3 linked regions of the Homo sapiens genome follow. The protein of the gene in region 2 binds, or shares a complex with, the protein of the main gene of each other region. Each region holds a gene or a part of one and is shown on either strand. Other genes may lie near its edges. The genes, in order: PPARA, PPARGC1B and NCBP1.

Region 1 (8,009 bases), on a different chromosome or scaffold from region 2:
AAAACTCTGTTCATAAGTTTGACAAACAGGAGCTAATGAAAACCACTGCAGTATTCGATGATTATGACACGTCTCCTACTTTACGTTTAAGATGTCGGAAAAGGGCCCGGCGCGGTGGCTCGCACCTGTAACCTCAGCCCTTTGGGAGGCCAAGGCAGGCGGTTCACCTGAGGTCAGGAGTTTGAGACCAGCCCAGCCAACATGGTGAAACCCACCTCTACTAAAAATACAAAAATTAGCCGGGTGTGGTGGTGAGTGCCTGTAATCCCAGCTACTCGGGAGGCTGAGGCAGGAGTATTGTTCGAATCCGTGAGGTGGACGTTGCGGTGAGCCAAGATCATGCCACTGCACTCCAGCCTGGGTGACAAGAGCAAAACTCTGTCACAAAAAAAAAAAAAAAAAAAAAAAGGATGTGGGAAAAGAAAGAAAAAACATTTTTTTCTAATGTCAATTAGTTAATTAATTTTATTTTATTTATTTATTTTTGAGACGGAGTCTCGCCCTGGCGCCCAGGCTGCAGTGCAGTGGCACAATCTCAGTTCACTAAAACCTTCACCTCCCAGGCTCAAGCGATTCTCCTGCCTCAGTTTCTTGAGTAGCTGGGATTACAGATGTCCGCCACCATGCCCAGGCAATATTTCTATTTTTTTGTAGAGACAAGGTTTCACCATGTTGGCCAGGCTGGTCTCGAACTCCTGGCCTCAAGCGATCTGCCCACCCCAGCTTCCAAAGTGCTGGGATTACAGGAGTGAGCCACCGCACCCAACTTGCCAATTAGTTTACTTTTGCTTCAGAGTTGCAGAGGTCATCATCAGCCCCAGTGTCCCTGGTCTCTCATGGATGGTGACCACACAAATTTGTATCATCTGGCCCGTTTCTTCAGCCTATCCCTGGCATGTTCTGGCACGGGTCTATCTCAAGAAGCCATCTGCTTAATATTCAAATCAAAATGAAAACAGCTCAGAGACAGTACACTACTCGGTACCAGTCAGTGTGGACATCCCAAGGGTCTAGTAAGCACTCACGTTTCTCAAAGTTAATGTCATCAAGTTTTAAATTATACAAAACATGCCTGCCACGAAGCAATGAAGTTCCTAGCAAAAGTCACACAATAACTCAGAACTTCAAAGTGAATCCTAGGCCAGGCACGGTGGCTCACGTCTGTAATCCCAGCACTTTGGGAGGAACAGGTGGATCATGAGGTCAGGAGTTCAAGATCAGCCTGGCCAAGATGGTGAAACCCCGCCTCTACTAAAACTACAAAAATTAGCTGGGCATGGTGGCAGGCGCCTGTAATCCCAGCTACTCGGGAGGCTGAGGCAAGAGAATCGCTTGAACCCCAGTGGCAGAGGTTGCTGTGATCTGAGATTAGGCCACTGCACTCCAGCCTGGGCGGCAGAGCGAGACTCCGTCTCAAAAAAAAAAAAAAAAAAAAAAAATGAATCCATGCACATGTATTTTACTTTCAGTCTGAAAACGTATCTAACCTTGCATCACAAAGTAATAACCCCCAGATTGCTGGTCTGTAGTGCAACAGAAGTAAACACTGAAAACACTTAAATATTTCCATCTGGAAACAGTAAATTAAACCTTCTATTTACCTGTGGTGACAGCTTCTCAGTTCTGAGCTTGTCTTGCCACAAACTGTTGAGTCCACAGAGCAGACAGGGCCCTGAGCTTCAGCCTGGCAGTAAGAAGGTGAAGGAGGAAGTGATTACGGTTGTTCTCTGGATGCCCCCCAACTCTTCACCTTGGAAGAGGAAAGTCATGCTGACCCTGCCCCGCAACGACACGGGTGTCGCAGGGTCCTTCCCAGGAAAATCCCGTGTCCTTGCCCTGACCCAGTTCCCCAAGGCACCCTTATCCCAAGGAGGCTGGGAGAGGAGGGGCCTCCCTGGTTTCCTGGCAGGGGTCGGCTGAGGCTGACGTGGGCGTGCAGCCCCGGAGGTCCCACGAAGCCCAGGCCATTGGACAACTGTGGGTTTTTCTTGGAAAGAATCCTGACACTTGGAGCACACTTCCTCTCTTTTAACTTTTAAAAAAGACTTCAGAAAAGCACAGGCGTGCAGTTGTGCCCGGTTGGGGTGCGTGAGGGGGCAGGGCCGACCCTCCTGACTTCCACTGGCACCACCCCGCGCCCCTCCAGCTTCACCCGCACCACGCGGGCCGCGCAGCCCGGGACTCCGGAAAGACCTGGGCGCCCGACCCTCAGCGGCCCCGACCGGGAGCGACGTGGCGCGGCTTCCGCAGAGAAGCCACCCGGCCCAGCGCAGCCTGTCCGGGGTCGCCCCGCCGCGTTGGGGCACAAAGTGGGAACCGTTCCTCAAAGGTGGTCGCAGCTGGAGGAACAAACACGCGCGTCTCCGTCCGACGGCAGAAGCCGGGCGCACCCACCCAGGGTCGGTCTGTCCGGGGCCCGGGTTTCCTCGCCTCGGAGATCCCTGGAGGTCTCGGAAAGCACCTTCTGAGTCGGCGACGCCCCAGCTCCGCTGCGCCGAGGAAAGGGCAAGTCCCGATGTCCCCGCCCGTGGGCCCTCCCTCCGAGGGGACAACCCGAAGACCCAGAGTCGCTGCGGTCCCCAGACCCGACCTCCGCGCAGCGCCAAACCCCAGGGACAGCCGCGGACTCGGGTTCCGGGCAGGCCCCCAGCGCTAGGAGGGAGGCCGAGCTGGGCCCCGAGATCCCTCGCAAGAGTCCTCGGTGTGTGTCCTCGCTCCTCGCCCTCAGGTCCCCAGCCGCGCACCCCGGGCCCCCGGGTCCCCGGGACCCGGAGACCCCGAGACCCCGGGCCCCGCGCATGCGCCGCCCAGCCCCTGCCCCTCCCCCGTCCGCCGCCCTCCGGGTCCCGGGACCTGGGAAGCCCGGACCGCGGACCCCCGCGCGCGTTCCCGCCCGCCCGCCCGCCCGCCCCCGGGCACCTGGGCCGCGGTCCGCCGCCTGCCGGTCCGTGGGGCGAACGCCGAAGGAGGCGGCGCCGGGCAGGGCGCTAGCGGCCGCCTCCGCCCCCGCCGCCCGCTGCCCCCGCCGCGGGGCCGCCGCGTCCACGGCCCATGCCCGGCGCCGCCTCCGCGCGTCCGTGCCAGCCGCGCCCCCGCGACACGCACCGCCCCTCGGCCCGCCCCCTGCCCCGGTCCGCGCGAGCCAGTGTCCCGAGGCCCGACCCGGAAGCCCCGCCCGCCCCGCGCGCCCTCCGGGCCCCGGGCCTCGGCCCCGGGACACACCCCCCGGAGGGCGGCGCCCGATTGGCTGCTCGCGGTGGGCGGGGCCCCGGGAGCGCTCAGCGGCTCCCACCTAGCGCCCCGCGGCCGCTGCAGCCAAGGGAAACTGAGGCCGGAGAGGTGGAGGGACCGTCCAAGGTCACCGATGGGACACCGCTGAGCGTCAGCGCCCCTCCAGCCCGGCGCACCGGGGCGGGGCTGAATTCGAGGCGGGGACGCGCGGCCGCGGGGCGGGTGGAGGTTCCCGCCGGGCGCCCGTGCCACGCTGGCGAGCCCCTCCTGCCTCCTCGATGAGCCCGGCTCTGCTACTCTGTGCGATGAGCCGGTCTAGACCCGGGACCCGGGACCGGGTGCCCTTGAGGCTCAGAAGTGCGTAGGGTGGGAGGCGGCCCGGGAGGGACCTTGTCCCTGGAACCCCAGGATGCAAAATAAGGAGAAGGGGAAGGCGAGCTGGGAGGACAAGGAAACAGGTGGCGGGAGGTGCCAGGGCGGTGTGGTGGGCGGGGGAACGAGGAGGGTGAAGGGCAACGCGGACGGGCTCGGGGAGGCGCCGCCAGCTCCGACCCCACAACCCCACCCCTCTCCAGCGGCCCAAGAGCCATGCCCGCCCCTACTTCATGCGCTGGGGGGTGAGGGGCTGACTTTGTGCCTACGCAAGGCGCTGGGACTCTGCCAGAGCAAGGAGAGGTCGCGGCCCGGTGGCCAATGGCGAGGAGTAGGAGAGCGCCCTGCAAAGCCGCTTTGTTCGGGCCGTGACGCTCGAGCTGCCGGAGCGGAATGCACAAAGCCCCTGGGTGCCGGCACATCAGGGCTCCCCTCCTCGGGAACGCAATGTGTGCTATGCCCGCTCCACTGCCTGCCCTCCGCTGCCAGCTGTGCCTGCCACTGTGCTATTTGTGGCAGCGGGCGCCCAGGAGGACCCACTCCGGAAAGCAAACCCAGATCTCATTAGGCAGGGGAACTGGAGATCAGGCGGGAACTGGCCCTTTCACAAACTTCTCTTAAACTCACCCTTGTTGATTAGCCAGGCACCTATGGTGAACTTTGCCCCACCCTCCAGACACCCACATATCCTTCCCACTGGCACACGGCAACCTCACCTTCTCTTGCACATGTTAGCCAGCAATAGCTATCATTTATGTTGTTTCAGAGTTTATAGGGTGACCTGTACACGTAATATCCTGCATATCTCGTGGGGTGTGCAGGCAGCCACATCCAAGCTTGTCATCCTGTTGTGTTTGGTGAGGGAAGCTGACCCTGGGCTGCCCACGCAGAGCTCAGGGGCTACATCCTCATGAGGACCTCCGGGCTCAAAGACATTACCTGGCATACCCATATCCCAGACTCTCAAGGACCAGGGTCCACACAGGTGTGTGACCCAGATGCACCACCCAGGTCAACCAGGTGTTGAAAGACCTAGTGAACATTCTCATGAACAAGGACAAAGGCTATGTGGGGGTGTGCAGAGTGGTCACGTACACTCAGCAGACATAGGAAAGTGATATTCTTGGGTTTTTTGGGGCTCCCAAGGTTTTAGGGAGAGAAAACTTGTTTTTCATCCATGTGTCCCAGAAATAAGCATTTTCAATCAAATGCTGTCAGCCAGTCTCCCGCAGGCGTCCTGAGGGTAGAAGCAAGTTCAGGACTCTTCTCTTGGGAGTATCCTGGCCAGAAACAGCCCCATATCCATGCTTCCCGGGGGTGGTAGGTTTCTTCTGGGAAACCACGCTCAGATGAGAGAGATGAAGCAATTTTCTGTTGGCCACGAAGACCTTGTCACACACCCAGCATGGGAGCAACTGTCACAAAGGGCACACCCTCACCCCCATTCCCAGCTCCAGGAAGTCTCTCTTTACCTTCTTCAGTGCTGATGAAATGAGGGCCACACGACAGAACAGAAACACCGCTGGCGCAGGGACTGAGTAGAAATCTGTAACTTTGAGGACAAATCAGTGCTCCTGAAAATGTCTCTGAGCACCACCTGAGTTTCCTCTCTGGCGCCTTAGTGACTACTGGGAGCATCTGGTGCATATGGATCTTAGTTCATAGCTACCATTTATGTGGTGACAATGCTGTCTCAGGTCCCTTTTTACATTTTCTGATCCGGAAGATGTTCTGAGGGTAATTATTACTGTGCCCACATTGCAAGATGGAGACTGAGGCACAGAGAAGCCCCATCTGCACTGGGTCCCCCAGGCCAGCGGCAGGGCGCAGGACGGAAGGCAGGTCTGTAAAGCCCACGTCTGCCCTGCTGAGCTGCTCTCTCCTGCAAGTGCTGACCTGCCAGCCAGCCAGAGAAGCCGAGGCTCTCCCACAGCCTCAGGGAAAGAATTGGGAAGCTGGGAATTCAGACGGGAAGGGGTTGCTGGAGGAGGCAACCTGGAGTGATAGGGCTTGGCCGCTCAGTACAGGGCAGCAGTTAGACCCTGAGTGCTGGGAGCAGGTGATGACGGTCATCTGTGTTCAGGGACCCCAGTGCTTTCCCTGACCCTGCCAGGGTGAAGCTTCTCCTATGGGCCTGGGGTCCAGGCTGGAGTCTGTTTGCCAGCCAGGGCCTGCGAAGTTTGCTGCTGGCTTGCCCTCTGCTGATGTGCAAAGCTCTCTGTCAAGGGGGAGTGTGTGCTTCCAGGGTGTCATCCGCCAGGGCAGTGGCCTCTGAGCTCCTGGAAGCGTGCCTGCAGGTCAGGTGGTGGAAGTCCACCGGGGCAGGGGCCGTGGGCTGAGAAAGGGAGGGCTCACTGGCAGCGAGCAGGCGGCTGCTTGGCGACCCAAGGCTGGACCTCGTCGGTGAGGGCCAACCATGGGCATGTCCTTAGTTGCCATCCTGGTACTGACAGCAAAACCCCATGGGTCCAAGGTAACAAAGTATTGTCATACTAGGGGACAGAATCTACAAGAGTCCCACAAGGCAGCTGTGCTTATGCTCATCTTACAGATGAGGAACGAAGGGCCAGGAATGGCAGCATGTGGCCAAGGTCCCCGGCAGGGAGTGAGAACTCTCCCGAGTCCCAGTCCATCAGCACCTGGCCCTGGGTACCCCCGGGGTTCGGTTGTCTGTTGCAGAAGCTGTCTGTTGGCTGATACGGCAGCCTCTGGCAGACTCAGGAGCCCAGGGTCAAGGATCAGATTTCCCTGGTGGCTGCTCCTGGCCCCACAGCTCCAGGGGGGTGGCAGCAGCATGTGCAGAAGCCTGTGGCAGGAGACATTCAAGGGGAGAGAGTGTGGAGATGGCACAAAGCGGGCAGAGCTGGGCAAGGCCCTGGCCAGGCAGGTCTTGCAGCCCAGTGAGGAGTTTAACTTTGGTCCTAAGGGCTGTGGGACACCTGCCATGGAGGGTTGTCAGCAGAGGCATGACTCCATCTGATTAGCACCAAGTGCTGCATGCTACATGTTAACCAGTGGTCACAGCTGAGGTGGTGGGGAGGGGCTTAAGCTGTGCACCCATTCTAGCTTTGCAGGATCTGGAAGCTTCCGCAGGTCCAGAAACTGCTGCTGTCATGACACTGTACCCTTTGAAAATTAACCAGTCCCCAGCTTTGCAGCAGGGCCCATTCGACATGGCTCAGATGTCTGTCTCTGTAGATCTTGAGAAGAACAGGGCAGCCCACCTGCAGCTGCACTGCCTCCCTTCTTTGCCCCTCCAAAGGGACAGGTGTCCACCTCGTCACACAGGATCCAGCTCCAGGGCTAGATCATGGATGTTGTTTATCCAGTCCAGGACATGGACTGGAAGCTGCAGGACCCCTCCCTGTGTCATGCTAGGTGCCGTGGGAGTCTCACTGCAAAGTGTGATGTGTAGATAGACGGATTTTCTTTCTTTACTTTTCTTTTCTTTTTTCTTCTCTTCTCTTCCCTTCCCTTCTCTTCTCTTCTCTTCTCTTCTCTTCTCTTCTCTTCTCTTCTCTTCTCTTCTCTTCTCTTCTCTTCTCTTCTCTTTTTGAGATGGAGTCTTGCTCTGCACTTATGTCCTTGCTGGAGTGCAGTGGTGAGATCTCGGCTCATTGCAACCTCCATCTCCCAGGTTCAAGTGATTCTCCTGACTCATCCTCCTGAGTAGCTGGGATTACAGGCACCTACCACCATACTCGGCTAATTTTTTGTATTTTTCATACAGACAGGGTTTCACCATGTTGACCAGGCTGGTTTCGAACTCCTGACCTCAGGTGATCCGCTCGCCTTGACCTCCTAAAGTGCTGGGATTACAGGCGTGAGCCGCTGCGCCCAACCAGATAGACATATTTGGTCCATAAAGGACAATCTGCTCTGTGTGGAGTTGGATTCTGCAATGATCTGACCCAGTGGTTGGCAGTGAGTGGCACTGCTGCGGCCAGGGAAGACTGCAAGTGCAGAGATGAGGTCTGGCATGACAGCCTGGAAACACACAAGACAGGCAAGCTTACGTGCACAGCACCGTGCCACGTGGGCACTGTCCCCCAACTTTCCCTCATGGAATGAGTGGGTGCCTGGGGTTTGGAGTTCAACAGAATTGGATTCAAATCCTCCTGTACCTTTTCCTCAAACTACAACCTCCAGCCGGTGATGCTATCCGAGCCCCCTCATCTCTAAAATGGGGCAGGGACGCCTTCCTGGATGGGTCCTGGTGTGAGTTTGAGGAGGGAGCACGGGGGTGGTGCAGGGTGGGGCCTGATGAGTGGGTCATATTTGGGACATGGTAACCACCAGCTTGAGGGCTCTGTCAAGAGTTGCCTCCTACAGGAAGCCTGCTTGGCAACCGTCCCCCTGCCAAAGCTGCCCTCTGCCTTGTGTGGCCACCACCTCCTGTGTTCCAT
Region 2 (7,549 bases):
GCTTTCCTGGGGAGGTTAGATGCTATGAGACTTTTCACACTCCCTTTCCAGTGTCTGTGGCTCAGACCATGTACACACCCAGGTTCAAATCTGAGCTGTTGTCTCTATGTAGTCTGGGGCCAATCACTTTAACCCCCTTTAAACTTTTGTTTCTTTAGTCATAAAATGGACATCATGATTTACCCTACGGAGGGTTGCTGGAAGGATTAGAGATGCTATAAACTCAGGCGTTGGGCACATGCTCAGTACAGAAAAGCCCTAAGGTTTGGTTGATGTCTATAAACTGCCATAACATCCGGGCTGCAGGACTCTGTAGAGGTTCATCTAGGCTAGCTCCTTCTTCTTTTTTTTTTTTTTTGAGACGGAGTCTTGCTCTGTCGCCCAGGCTGGAGTGCGATGGCACAATCTCAGCTCACTGCAGCCTCCGCCTCCTGGGTTCAAGCAATTCTCCTGACTCAGCCTCCCTAGTAGCTGGGACTACAGGCGGGGGCCACCACGCCCTGCTAATTTTTTGTATTTTTAGTGAGATGAGGTTTCACCCTGTTAGCCAGGATGGTCTAGATCTCCTGACCTCATAATCAGCCTGCCTCAGCCTCCCAAAGTGCTGGGATTATAGGCGTGAGCCACTGCGCCCGGACTGCTCCTTCTTTTTTTTTTTGAGAGGAAGTCTCGCTCTTGTCCCCAGGCTGGAGTGCGCCCAACTGACCACTCCTTCGTTTTTTTGTTTTTTGTTTTTGAGACGAAGTCTTGCTCTTACCCCCAGGCTCACTGCAACCTCCGCCTCCCAGGTTCAAGCGATTCTCCTGCCTCAGCCTCCCGAGGAGCTGAGATTACAGGCACCCGCCACCACACCCGGCTAATTTTTGTATTTTTAGTAGAGATGGGGTTTCACCATGTTGGCCAGGCTGGTCTCGAACTCCTGACCTCAGGTGATCTGCCTGCCTCGACCTCCCAAACTGCTGGGATTACAGGCGTGAGCCACCAGGCCAGGCCGCTCCTTCATTTTATAGATAAGAAAACAGCCTCAGAGAGGAGAAGCAAATGGCACAAGATCATCTAGCACCTCAGGTTTTTTGAGGGCTTTTTTTTTTTGAGATGGGGTCTCAGGCTTTTTTGAGGGCAGTGATGATCACAGGTCACTACAGCCTCAACCTCCTGGGCTCAAGTGATGCTCCCATCTTAGCCTCCAGTGTAGGTGGGACCGCGAGTGTACACCATAAACCCTGGCTAATTTTTTTTTTTTTTTTGTATTTTTTGTAAAGATGGGATCTCCCTATGTTGCCCAGGCTGTTCTCAAACTCCTAGACTCAAGTGATCCTCTGGCCTCAGCCTTCCATTGTTGGGATTACAGGCATGAGCCACCACACCCAGGCCAGGACTTTTAATCTCAATTAAGAACTTCACATTTTTCCATGGGCCAGAGGAACTTCAAATTCCTCCATGAGGCTGAGACTCTGTGAGCAACCTGTGATGAAGGAATTTCTGGGACAATATGCTTTTCAAAAGGACGCTAGATATCTCAGGTGAGGCCCTTTCTCACCTAAATTTCTTGCCAGCCAGAAGACTGTTGTGAGGATGTAGTGACTGGTGAGAAAGTCCCTGACGTTGGGCAATGTGTGGCTTTTCTATCAACACGGGAGTTTTAAAAACAAAAAAGCCTCTGGGAAAGTGCTGTCAGGCCTTCCCTGGCAAGGCAGTGAATGGCACTGCAGCTCTGCAAGGACCAAGGCTAGAGATGGCTGGCTTTGGGGACACTCCCAAGTTTGGCCTCTGGGCTATGAAGGACACACCACCAGTCAGGGGCCAGGCTGGGCCTGGAAGGGACATCTCCAGAAACCATCCCACAGGACTCTGACTCTGGTGCCCAGGGGAGTAGCAAAAAAAATGGGGTCTTGGGAGAATTCAAGTCCTTAGTGCTAATGGTGATGACATTGGTGATGTTGGTGATGATTATAGTGATGATGGGCATTTCCTACCTGCAAGATTCAGGGCCAGGCAACTGACTTTACATGAATTGCATTATTTCATTCAATCCATCCTCACAAGATCCCTATGTGGAGCAGTACCATTGCTATCCCCACTTTACAGATGAGGAAACTGAGGCTCAGAGAGGTTAAGTAAATGACCAAGGGCACATAGCTAGTTTGCACCAGGATTCAAATCTGAATATACTGGAGTCCAAAGTACGCCAGCAGCCTGTAAGTGCTGGAAAAAAGGCAAGTAACATTGGCTAGTGCCTTTAAGGGATATATATTTCTTATTCCCATTTTAACAGAAGGGAAACAGAACAGAGCGCTTAGCGTATTCTCCATGAGGTCAGGCACTGTGCCAAGCACTGTACATATATTATCTCCTCAATCATCAAAACATCCCTATGAAGTTGGTGGTTTTTTGGTCCCCATTTGTGTAGATGAGGAAACCGAGGCCCGAGACTAAATGACTTGCTGTGGTTCCAAATCAGGCAGTGTGACTCCAGGGCCCACGCTCTTCACCCCCTGAATTGCTGGATACTGGAACAAGATGTTCCAGTATCCAGATGCAGGGTCTGAAACAGAACCCAGGACTCCTAACTCCTAGTCTAGGGCTCTGAGGCTAGATGCAGGCTCTCTGTTGGAATGCATTGTTCCTTAAAAGCACACTGGCCTTAAGCCCAAAGAGTGAAATCACGGCCTGCGGTTCTGGGAACCTCAGACTGGAGAAGGAAGCTTTTGCCCTGGTGTTCAAGTCTCAGCAGGTGTGCTGGGGACTCTCCCTCTATTTCCTTCTCCCGCTGGAAGGGAGCCCTTGTTAGGTGGGCAGGGTGGGGCAGCCCTTATGAGTGTAGGGTGGGAGGAGGGCAGGAGGCAGGCGTGCCCAATAAAACAGACCTAAAGCTTCCCGCCTTCTTGCCTTCATCCAGGCAGTGCCCTCATCTCCTGTTTGGTAAACAACAGGGCATGATGATGAGAGTTCAAGGTTGGAGTCAGGAGGTCTGAGTTCTGGTTCTGGCTCAGGCAGTCACTCCATGTACACATTGACAGTCAGTTTCCTTATCTGTATAATGTGTGGTGGTGGTGGTGGCAGAGAATCAAAATTCTCCAGCTTTTTCAGTTAACACATCATCTATTAAGTGCCTACTATGTGCCAGAAACGGCAGATACAGCAAGTGCAAAAGCAGATTTAGGCCCTGCTTTCATGGTGTTAGAGTCTTGTAAGGAGAGATACAAAGATTAAGTCTTCATTGCAACAAATGTAAAACGGCAACTGTGACCAGCTTTTAGAGAAAAAAGGCCTGCTGGTGGAGCTAAGGGAGCCCATGATGGTGGAGGTGGAAGGAGAGGAAATGGCTTGACAGTCCAAGGGGTAATAGGGAAAGATGCCCCGAAGAGATTACTAGGTGAGTGGCAAGCCCGTTGTGAGCGGGCCTGCGGAGGCTGGCAGGAGCCCAGCCCCTTCATGCATTGTGGGCATTGGTAAGAGAACTCATTGGAGTTTTTTGGGGGAAGGGTGCTGGGGACGATGGCAGAGAGAGATATATGATCAGGTTTAGCACAGAATATAGGCAAACGCACCCTTCAAGTAAAAGATAAAAATGCCTCCTCCTCCAAGGAGACTTCCTTGATTTCTTTGCTTTTGATCTATGGTATTTCTCCCTCCTTCTCTGGCCTTGTAGCCTGGGTAGAGAAACAGTCCTCCAGGGGAGTAAGACCTAAGCTTTCCCTTCCTGCAACTGATGTGCGCTGTAGCTTTGAACGAGGTCCTAGGTATATACATACATACATACATACATACATACATACATACATATATATATACATACATATATATACACATACATATATATACATACATATATATACACATACATACATACATATATACACATACATACATACATACATATATATACACATACATACATATATATATATATATATATATATTTTTTTTTTTTTTTTTTTTTCAGGAGGGATATGAAGAGTGACTTACAGGCGCCCGCCACCATGCCTGGCTAATTTTTTTTGTATTTTCAGTAGAGACGGGGTTTCACCATGTTGGCCAGGCTGGTCTCAAACTCCTGACCTCAGGTGATCCACCCGCCTCGGCCTCCCAAAGTGCTGGGATTACAGGCGTGAGCCACTGCGCCCGGCCTTCGAACGAGGTCCTATTCCTTCTCGAGCCTCAGTTTCCCCAGCTGTGCAGAAGAAGCAGGTTGTCTCGCAGGACCCGCCCAGCGCTAACGCAACGTGATTCGCTCTGGCAGGAGCCGGGGGCTGCCCGCATTGCTGCGCAGGCATCGGGCTGCTGGCTGGGGCACCGCCACCTGGCTGCCTGCGCTTTACCCCTTGCTGAGGGCTGCGTGAGCTGGTCGCGGCGCCAGACACGGCGCAGGAAAGTGGGTGAGCGACCCCCGGCTCCCGCGGGCGCCGCGCGGCCCCGCCCCCGCAGCTAGCGGCCCTGCGGCAGCCGGGGGCTCGAGCTCCGCCCTCCGCCTCCCGCCGGCCTCACTCCCTCCTCCCTCCTCCCTTGCTCGCTCGCTGGCTCCCTCCCCCCGGGCCGGCTCGGCGTTGACTCCGCCGCACGCTGCAGCCGCGGCTGGAAGATGGCGGGGAACGACTGCGGCGCGCTGCTGGACGAAGAGCTCTCCTCCTTCTTCCTCAACTATCTCGCTGACACGCAGGTACGGCCGGCTGGGGCTGCGGGCCCGGGGCCAGGGGTGCTGAGCTGCGGGGGCCGCAGCTGCAGCCGCGGAGGCCGGGAGGCAGCGGTGGGAGCCCTGGGGTAACTGGGGGTTCCAGGCTGCAGAGCCCCCCTTCCAGGCGCCCTGCGATGCGCTCCGTTACCGGGGCAGGGAGCCGGAGGTCTCCCGGCGCGTGCCGGAGCGCTGGGGGCGCTACGGCCGCTGGGGAGGGTCTAGCCTTGGCCGCTTGGAGTCTGCCACCCCGCGGGCAAAACTGGGGGGTACCGCGCTTCCTTTGGGAGGTGGAGGCGCGCCACGGTGTGGGGTACCCTCAGGCTGGCGCTGGGTGCTGGAGGCGCGCCGTCAGCGCCCGGCACTTGCTGCCGTACTTTCACGTGGACTTGTGGCCCCGGCACGGGTGCATGCCCGGGTCTCCGGAGTCCCCTAGTCCTCCAGGCTGTAGTCCCCAGAGTGCTGTTGCTGGCCCCCCGCGGCTTTCTACCCGCGCCCGCAGCGCGGAGTTTCCTGCCAGTTGCCGGCTAAAGGCATAAGGGTCTGCGGGGCACGTGGACATGCGGGCGGAGACAGCGTCTTCCTGGTTTCGCTATCGGGCGGAGCCCCCTGGGGGGAAAAGCCAGGCTGGATGGGGGCGGAAGGACTGTCTGGGGGCGCCTGGGTCCCCCTGCGGTGCGCGGCCCCGGTGCGCGCTCCACGATGCAGGGGGAAGGGAAGGCGAGGCGGAGTCCCAGGCACTGGCTGAGCCCGGGAGCCCCACTGGCGACACGCGCGTGACAGGAGAGGGTGCTCTGGTGTGCCGGGGCGCGGGGGAGCGAGGAAGCTGGTGGCTTGGAGACTGGGAGAGGGGTGCTGCTGGGACAAGCAGCCACCAAAAATGTCAGCACGAGGCGTGCGCGGCCCCCACCCCTTCCCCCATTTTCCCCACCCAATGCCTGTTGCAAGCATAAAGTTTGGCTCCAGAGTTAGGGCTTTTTCTCTGGGCGCCCGGCTGCGGGTCATTGGGAAGCTGAGGATGCGGCGGAACCTCGGAGGAGCCCCGGGTGCTGGCACACGCCTGGGCACGGAGAGGGGCGGCCGGGCGGAACCGGGCGCGGCTCGCGGGGGCTGGTTTGGTACCTGGAGTGGGAGCGCCGGTGCCGGCCCGTTTTGCATAACAGTGGAAGGGAGGGGGAAGGCGGAGATTGGGGGAGGGAGGTGGGAGGAGAGAGAGGGAAACTTTGCTTCTTGTTATAATCTGCCTGTCTTTGGGCGGCAGCAGCTGTCATGGGACCGGGTGGGCGGGGAGAGGCTTGCAAGCTGACTCCTTGCGGTGAAACGCGACTTGGAAGGGACGCCGCAGCCGAGACGTTCAGCTCCGGGCAGCGACTTCGGGCTGGCGGCTGGGACGGCGTGGCGTGGCAGGGTGTCGCCGAGAGGAAGCCCGCCACGCGGGAGGCAGGCCGCCCCTGGCCCGCTGCAGACGCCGCTGCGTAGGGGAGCCGCGGGGCCGCGTGGTCGGTGGCGGGCGCGCTCGGGTGGGTTCGCGGCAGAGGCCGGAGGGGCTAGTGGCGTGTGATTGCGCTTCTCGAGATCGAGGGGAATGTGTGATGAGCGGGTTGCGCGCGCGGGTGTGTGTGTGTGTGTGTGTGTGTGTGTGTGTGCACACGCCGCGCGCGCCGGGCGCGTACCTTTACCTCTGACGAAACTGCGGTGGAGCTCCCGCCGTCGTCGCCGGGCTCCGTCACACGCCCCGCGCCGGTGTCTGCGCCGAAGGCAGGTCCCAGCCTCAGTACCCCCAGAGCCGACAGCTTGGGGCTAGCGGGCACTGAGTGCGGGAGGAGGGGCAGAGTCACTCCTGGGAAGATTCTGTCCCCAGATCTCGAAATTGCCCTGGGGCGTCTCCGAATCTCTTGGCTGAAAAGCGGATGAGAGAGGCCTGAAATAGCCGGAGACTCGTTCAGGGACCCATGTCAAGAACTGTCCGCTTTGGACTGTACCCCGGATTTTAACTCGATCTTCAGTGTTTGGCTCAGCAATAATTAATTATTTTGCCCTTTAGCCGCCCAGCGAGCCTAGCTAGCAGAAATATTTCAACTAAGGAAACTAGAAAATTGAATACTCAGGTGTTTGCAGGAGCAGTGCAGTGAAAGTTAATCTGGGACATTTGCTTTTTTTATTTAACCACATGACAGGCCGAGGATCTTCTGGTGATCTTTGCCGGCCCAACTTGGGAAATGTAATTGATAGGATGAGCTTTGAGCCGCCCCTAGAAGGCTCGGAGAGCCCAGCCGGAAGAGGACCTGGGCGGGCCCAGTGTGCTCCTCCTTATTTTACAGCTGGAGAAAGAGGCTGCGAGGAGTGAGCGGCTTGTATGGGACCATGCAGCCAGAGGGTGACAGAGCCACCCAGGGCTCCTGACTCCAGGTCCTGTGTGTTACCTAGAAATAGCACTGGACTTGGAGTCAGAAGGCCTGAGTGGAGTCACCTTCCCCACTCTCTGGCTGGGTGACCCCGGAGCAAGCCATTTGAACTCTCCGAGCCTCATTTCCTCCATCTGTCAAATGGGGCTGGTGGTGCCGCAAGAGAATCCAATGGCCTGGTGGTGGGGGTGAGCAGTGTTTGCATGTGAGATGTTCTGGTTGTTCCTGCAACCCCCTCTCCTCCCCCAAACTTTCCCTGACCCTCCCCTCCTTCATCTCCCTTTGGGAGCTTTGGGGAAAGTGGATTAAATGGTAATTCATTGTCTTTGTCCCAAAAGATTGTTGTTGTCTTTGGTGGCTAATCCAGGGTTAGATTAGAGGGAGGACTTCTGTTTAGGAGACTTAACTTTTACCCATTGGGGCCAAAGTACGGAAATTTAGCAGAACAAGGATTGCGAAAGTTTCTTGGAAA
Region 3 (7,000 bases), on a different chromosome or scaffold from region 2:
CTGGTGTGCATTCTAGGTGCCATCCCCACTGAAGCTGGAACCCTTCCCGAGTTCCATCTGGACTAGCTGAGACTCTGCACATAGCTGGCTCTTGCTAGTTTTCTCTCCCAACAGTCTGGATCCTTCAACAGGATTTCTACTTCACTGGCTTAGCCTTGATTCAACTTAAGAGTGTCCCTGCTAAGAGACGCTGCAACCTGATAGGCTGTGTATGTTTCCACTGTCTAGGAATTTTTGCCATGTCCAATCCTACCAGATTGGACCATTAGTATATTAATATCAACCTGGTTTGGACCAGAATTTGAAGCTTATGTATAAGAGACCACACATATATCAATTCTTAGGGAACACAAGTTTCATAAAATAATTTATATTACCTGGTAAAGTCACGAGATAGTTCTGAAGAGAAGATCCAATTTGCTACGGCAGCACAATCAACTATTTGTGTACGAATCATCTTATCCACTAGTACAGCAATCATCTACAATGAGAGAATTATTCAAGTAAATCACACACACACATACACACACATATATATGTGCCACCACACTGCTGCTATAAAAGTAAAATAGGAGGGCTATAAAATTTAGTTTTGGTGGCTATGGAATTGATTGATCAATCTGACCATTAGGTCTTTTTTTTGGGAGACAGAGTTGCTCTGTCACCTAGGCGGGAGTGGAGTGGCACGATCTCAGCTCACTGCAACCTCCACCTCCTAGGTTCAAGCAATTCTCCTGCCTCAACCTCCTGAGCAGCTCAGATTACAGGTGTGCACCACCATGCCTGGCTAATTTTTGTAATTTTAGTATAGACGGGGTTTCACTGTATTGCCTAGGCTGGTCTCGAACTCCTGGCTTCAAGTGATCCATCCATCTCGGCCTCCCAAAGTGCTAGGATTACAGGTAAGAGCCACCACGCCTGGCCTGATCATTAGGTCTTAAGATTTATTCTCCCCTTTGCTTTGCTCTAGCACTACAAGAAACAGGTTGACTAAACAAAAACTCTGAATGGTAACAGTTAAAATTTGAAAAAACTGGCCAGGCGCGGTGGCTCACACCTGTAATCTAGCACACTTTGGGAGGCCGAGGTGGGCAGATCACCTGAGGTCAGGAGTTCCAGACCAGCCTGGCCAACATGGTGAAACCCCATCTCTACTAAAAATACAAAAATCAGCCAGGTGTGGTGGTGGACGCCTGTAATCCCAGCTACTCGGGAGGCTGAGGCAGGGGAATCACTTGAACCCGGGAGGCGGAGGTTGCAGTGAGCCAAGATTGCGCCACTGCACTCCAGCCTGGGTGACAGAGTGAGACTCTGTCTCCAAAAAAAAATTTAAATTTCAGGTACTAATACGTATTCAAAAAAATACATAATTTCAATGAACCCCAGAAGTTAAATGTAAAACAATGTTTTATCATTACACACTCACTGTTTTATGAAATTTATTTAAATGTTTCTTTGTCATACACAATATATATCAAGGTTTGAGAAATCTGGAGCTTGCATTTAGAAACTGGATAGACTAGATAAACCTTTTCCTGAACATTTAAAACATATTGAGATATTATAGTTCAAAACCAAATCATAATAATGCTTACTCTTTCAAGAATGAATGAAACATCATTACTCCCATAGCACTGAAAGAATTAGATCTAAAAACCATTATCTAGGCAGAGTCAAATTTCATGTTTTACAAACAAAACAATGGCAATTAACGGCCTTATTTTTATACCCATACAATCAGAGCTTCAACATGTCTAATTAAATAATTTTTACCTGTGGATGGTTCCTCCAGACCTCAAACATAACTCTTAGCACATGTAACTTTCCTTCATCACTTTCAGCTAGGGTTTTGAAGACTTCATGAAACCTTTTGATAATGATGGGAAAAAAATACCATATATACTTATTCATTAAACATTTTAGTGTTTTCAAAGCCTTTTCAATGTTACTCAATTTATAATGCAATATATAAATGCAAAATAACTAAGTATTAACCATTAAGGATGCAAAAAGTGTGATCACAGATTGATAGTTTTTAAGGAAGCTGTCACAAAATCTCAAGACATTTACAATATACTACCGTTAGCCCAGGGCTACAGTTTAAAAGAATAGGTAAGGACTAAGGAACTGTCTTCAAACATGGTGAAATATTCAAACTGCATCTTCTGTGGGAACCCTGCAAGTAATATAAAGCCTTGGAGACAGAGATGGGGTGAGATGTCCAGTTTCTCTGCTTGGCAGAAGGAAAATCTATGTGCTCTTTCTTCCTTTGGACCCTGTCTGACAAGTTAAAAATACCTGTCTTCAGATGCCAACCTTTGCGTGACTCCCAACAGTGTAGCTGATTCTAATTTCTTCTTACATTGCTTTGGAAAGATATTTAGCGTGGGAACTTCCAACTGCATATGACTGTCCCAAAAACCTAGGTTTTTCACTAGTTTCTTTAAATGTCTATATGAAAAAAAGCACTTACCATGTACATATGCCAACTGTACAAACAGACTGACGGAAGCCTTAGGATATGGATTTCAGCTACCACAAACCCAAACCCACTGTGTCCAATTATACACTATTAAGATCTTCATATTCAACAATCTTAGGTAAAAATTACCATACCACTGGTGTTCACCAAGCAAAATTCCAAACTCTCAAGCAAGGCTCTGTACTCATACATACTTTGCAAGAGCACTGAAGGAGTGGCTGAATGATTTGGCTGCCAAGTGTAGCAGAGTCTGTACAAAGACTTCTATTTTCAATGGGTTAAAACTGAATCCTTCATCTGAAAAATATTTTATAGTAAAACAGAAAAATGTAAGCACAGCAATTCCTTGGTGCCTTACCTCAAATGCTAAATAGATGGTTGCTCACATCTATACACAGATATTTGTGTAATGTTTTTTGGTTCTAATAAACAATAAAAGACCGTCACTGATTTCAAACACTGAAAATATGAAACCACTTGTAATTTTAAGTCTTAGTTTTATGTGACTGTCTTAATTCTATCATCCATTCCTTGAAAAAAAAAAATCACACAGGTTTCCTTATTCATAGCCTCTATTATATTAATACCAAAAAAAAAAAAAAAAAACACTTAAGCTTATGTCTTAAGATGTCTGACAACATCTGAATTTAATGCCATCATTTTGGCTTATTCTTTCTAAACTCATTTTCTCTAATATCATAATACAAATTTCTTAGAGATATCCAAACAAAATCCCAGTAATAAATACCCAAAGGCCACTAATATCTTATTTTGATTCAGTAGTTTTTCTATGTGCATATCCATTTATTGATTCAGGCAACTGTATAAATTATTTTGTCAATTTTCCCACTCTTGCCCAGAAAAACTCCTAGGATTCTGGTTGGAATTACATGGTATATAACTGAGTAAATGTTAAACATTATTATTCTAATAGCTTAACTTGGAGAAAACATCCAACTTTATAACACACCAAGTCTTTCTATTCAGGAACTTCTCTATGGTGAAAGCAGGGGTTAAAAATCCTTGAATGGTAACATATTTCACTTTGTATTTACGATGAAGTTTATATTCTTAAGTAAGCTATATCACAGAAATGTTAGGATCTCTTTTTATATAAGGGGAAAATACCTGGGGTGCTAAGAACAACAGTCTGAACAGGTCAAACAGATATAGATATATTGCTTTAAGAGCATCATGTTGCCAGAGTTATGTTTATGCTTTAAGTTGGCCTATACATAGTTCCACTTAAGAAATACTGAATTCCACTTACCGTCGTCATCATCCTGGTTAGGATTTGGTACATCTTTCAGAATGCTGAAGATTTCATCATTGGTTGCCTTACTTTTAAAGGCAACAGCTAAACAGAGGGCAACAGAATGTCCAGGAAGAGAATCTAAACACAGAATTGGGGGTAAGGGGAATGACAGATCAGGTTTCAAGACTATTCTAATGAACAGTTAAATAACTGAGAAAAATTTTTTTTAAATTCTTCCTTTCAAAATAGGATGCTCTTTATCCCAAGGTCAATATTTAATCACATATAAATACCGTATGTGAAAGCTTTTTCTAATAGGTTAATGGTTTTTCACCTAAAAAGGGACAATTCTCATTTCAACAATTCATTAAGGACACTTAGCTAAGTAAAATTTAGAGCACAAGGTGCTGATCATCCTCAAGATGAATGGTAAGGAGAAAAGTGGACACAGTTAAACTGTCTTTTAATGCCCTCAACTCTCCTGGGCTCAAAATCCCAGAACCAACGTACTTCTCTTTCATTTTGCCAACACCCACTTCCTCTTTCTTTCCTCGGGACCGTGGAAATGAAGTCTGAGTCTCAACAAGGTAATGGCTGCCAACTTCAGAGAGGTTTTGTTTTTGTACTTTTCTTTTTTGCTGAGTCCACAAGCTTGAATCTACGTAAGTCAGATGCTCACGTGATGGGACTCCTTGTATTTACTATTGGTTGGTATCAGTTGAGTCCTTATTATAAAAATTTGTGCTAATATACACCGTAAGGCATCACCAGAGCAACAAGAAATCTGCTTTTAATGTAAGGTAGACAAAGAGGTAACAAAAAAGGCAATCCTGTTATAGAGTATGAGTTACTGGAATGAATAAAGTAAATTACAACAGTCATGTGAGGACAGTCATATTACACCTGCTGTGAGCTTTTTCTCTAAAAAAAAGAAGGCGAAGAAAAACAGAATCCCCTGTCACCAGTCTACATTCTAGCTGGGGAACCAAGATATTCACATTAGACACAGCCAGGAAGCAATACAAAACTGGCTTGCTAACGGTTAAAAAATATTTACAGCTATTGAGCTTGGGCTAGAATCTAGAAGGAGAAAAGGAAGTGGAGCTAGAAAGGGCTTTCCAGACTGGGGTAATGGCAAAGTCAAGAACAGGGAGTATGGAAAAAATAAAAAAGTACATGGACCTGGCAGAAATAGAGGTCCATGTGGGGAGAAGTGAAAAATAACAAAGTAGGAACAATGGTTATGAAGGCCTTGAATGTTAGGCGGAGTTATTCCTATGGGGCAAAAAGAAAGCTTAATCTTCAACAAAAGCCTGAGCTTTCTGATAGCAAAGACTACACCTTATCATTCTCGGAACCAGTACAGGACAAAACTCAAAACCCAGCACTTCTAAGTACTGCATAAACCTTTGATCTGCCAAAAAGCACAGTGGCTAACAGCATGGCCACTCAGTTAGTGCACCTACGCCTGAATTTGGGCTCCACCACTCAAAAGCAATCTCATTCTAGCTTGACCTCTTGGAAGTCATTTCCTCATTGTAGTTTTGATAATCATATCTATTCTTCAGAGTTGACATAATGAAATAGGAAATGTACCAGGACCGACACAGTTCATTTCAAGGAAAACAGGTACAGTCAGAGACAGAGGTGGAGAAACAGGCACACAGTATGAAAAGCAAAGAACAGCAGAAAGTTGTGAGATACAAAGAACCTCTACACAACACAAAATGGAAGGATCATGGAGGGGCTGTGTTAAGTGTAATCTGCAAAGAACAAGTTGGAAAAACTCCACACCTAACTCTACCAGTGATCAACAATGTATAATACTTTACCTTCATTAAGTGTAAATACTATGCAAAGGGCAAAATGGCACATCAAATTACACTCCCTGATTTATGGTGCAATTTCAGAGATTATGTGACCAAAAGGTAAGAAAATCATAATTAAGAATTTACTTTTAAAGGCATACTGCCACAAATATGTGCATCTATGTTCTCAATACCACACCTGAACAAGATAATGAATTCAAGTAACCTCCATCACCATGACAAATACACGTTTTCAGTTTAGTAAGTTCTAACTATAAATTCATCTTGCTATACTTAACACATTCAAAAGAGAAAAAATGATAAGCCAGTAGTAATTAATTTTATCACAACCAAATCCTCAAAATGATGACAGGGCAAATAAAACAGTGGCTAATGATAGACCACCTTTCAAATACAGGAAATATAAACCCCAAGAAAAGAAAAAGTTCAATTTCTCCACTTTAAACAACTAACTTCAGATATACTTGAACTGGTACCTTTTAAAGACAGAGGGATTAGTTTCATTACTTACTGCTACTTTCATCTCCATACTTGTAAATGCAGGTTGGGTTTGCAGGACACAGAGCTGAGAAGGTAGGAGGAACAATATCTAATATACGCTGATGGTAAGACAACCTACAATACAAATAACAGCCTCAGAAAATATCTTTTATCAGTCCCATTCTTCGGTAACACCCGACTTACCTGGAAAGTCATGATCTCCAACAACTTGAACTCAGCTGACAACCAAGAAGTGAAAGGGAAAAAAAAATCCTTTGAGTTTTTGTCTAAGCCAGCACACCAAATCTCAGGCATACTGCAAAACTCACTGGCTTGCACTGAGGTGCGGGTGAGTGAGCTCATGAGCCTGGTGGCCAAGTATGTGGGGTGATGATGGGGCATGGTGGAGATGACTGCACGCTTTGGAAACTGGCTATATTCTATCAAATAAATAAATATTGAGGATAATGGAAGCCAAGTTTGTTACTGCCTGAGAAGGTGTTTACAAATCATGGTAGAGAAGAAGTGTAGAAATAAGGTATTGAGTTGGAATTGGAGGCATATATACACACAGGTGGACATAAAAACAGTTATGGATGGATGGATGTGTGTCCACCAAGAGGCTTAGAACCAATGACACCCCAATGGCAATGAGCATATCAAGTGCCCAGATCTTGGCTCCTAAATACCATATTCCATTACTACTTTACTAGAAACTAGGGCTCCATGAATAAATAGATGATTCCAGTGATAGGGCAAGAAAACGCAAGATGATCCTAAATATGTTGTTCTAGAAAATAAGGGAATGCTCAATGAATGGCTGGGGACGTTAAAAAAAAAAAAAAAAATATATATATATATATATATAGAGAGAGAGAGAGAGAGAGAGCTTACCGGGGCTCCTCATGTACATACCAGGGACAATTTGGGCATCAAAATAAATAATCCTCATAG

Evidence for each region.
Region 1: the proteins of PPARGC1B (region 2) and PPARA are in contact, whole or in part, in a crystal structure (PDB 3SP6), measured with the Homo sapiens proteins. Residues at the interface, in NP_573570.3 of Homo sapiens: Ser154, Leu155, Leu156, Gln157, Leu159, Leu160, Leu161, Thr163; in NP_001001928.1 of Homo sapiens: Val284, Thr285, Thr288, Glu289, Lys292, Phe297, Leu302, Asn303, Gln305, Val306, Leu309, Pro458, Leu459, Glu462, Ile463.
Region 3: the proteins of PPARGC1B (region 2) and NCBP1 are in contact, whole or in part, in a crystal structure (PDB 6D0Y), measured with the Homo sapiens proteins. Residues at the interface, in NP_573570.3 of Homo sapiens: Tyr1006, Glu1007, Ala1008, Met1009, Asp1010, Phe1011, Asp1012, Leu1014, Leu1015, Lys1016, Glu1017, Ala1018, Gln1019; in NP_002477.1 of Homo sapiens: Glu26, Asp29, His30, Ser33, Leu34, Lys37, Val38, Lys41, Ser42, Ala43, Cys44, Asn49, Gly52, Leu53, Val56.

What each region holds. Positions count from the first base shown.
Region 1 is NC_000022.11:46,145,563-46,153,571, reverse strand, and holds the start of PPARA (peroxisome proliferator-activated receptor alpha), read right to left. Parts: upstream 3,047-8,009; 5' UTR 2,920-3,046; intron 2,785-2,919; exon of another isoform or gene 2,395-2,784; intron 1,685-2,394; 5' UTR 1,602-1,684; intron 1-1,601. UniProt on the Homo sapiens protein: Ligand-activated transcription factor. Key regulator of lipid metabolism. Activated by the endogenous ligand 1-palmitoyl-2-oleoyl-sn-glycerol-3-phosphocholine (16:0/18:1-GPC). Activated by oleylethanolamide, a naturally occurring lipid that regulates satiety.
Region 2 is NC_000005.10:149,725,761-149,733,309, forward strand, and holds the start of PPARGC1B (peroxisome proliferator-activated receptor gamma coactivator 1-beta), read left to right. Parts: upstream 1-4,549; 5' UTR 4,550-4,582; coding exon 4,583-4,660; intron 4,661-7,064; exon of another isoform or gene 7,065-7,130; intron 7,131-7,549. UniProt on the Homo sapiens protein: Plays a role of stimulator of transcription factors and nuclear receptors activities. Activates transcriptional activity of estrogen receptor alpha, nuclear respiratory factor 1 (NRF1) and glucocorticoid receptor in the presence of glucocorticoids.
Region 3 is NC_000009.12:97,657,821-97,664,820, reverse strand, and holds part of NCBP1 (nuclear cap-binding protein subunit 1), read right to left. Parts: intron 6,182-7,000; coding exon 6,078-6,181; intron 3,876-6,077; coding exon 3,753-3,875; intron 2,780-3,752; coding exon 2,677-2,779; intron 1,868-2,676; coding exon 1,774-1,867; intron 482-1,773; coding exon 378-481; intron 1-377. UniProt on the Homo sapiens protein: Component of the cap-binding complex (CBC), which binds cotranscriptionally to the 5'-cap of pre-mRNAs and is involved in various processes such as pre-mRNA splicing, translation regulation, nonsense-mediated mRNA decay, RNA-mediated gene silencing (RNAi) by microRNAs (miRNAs) and mRNA export.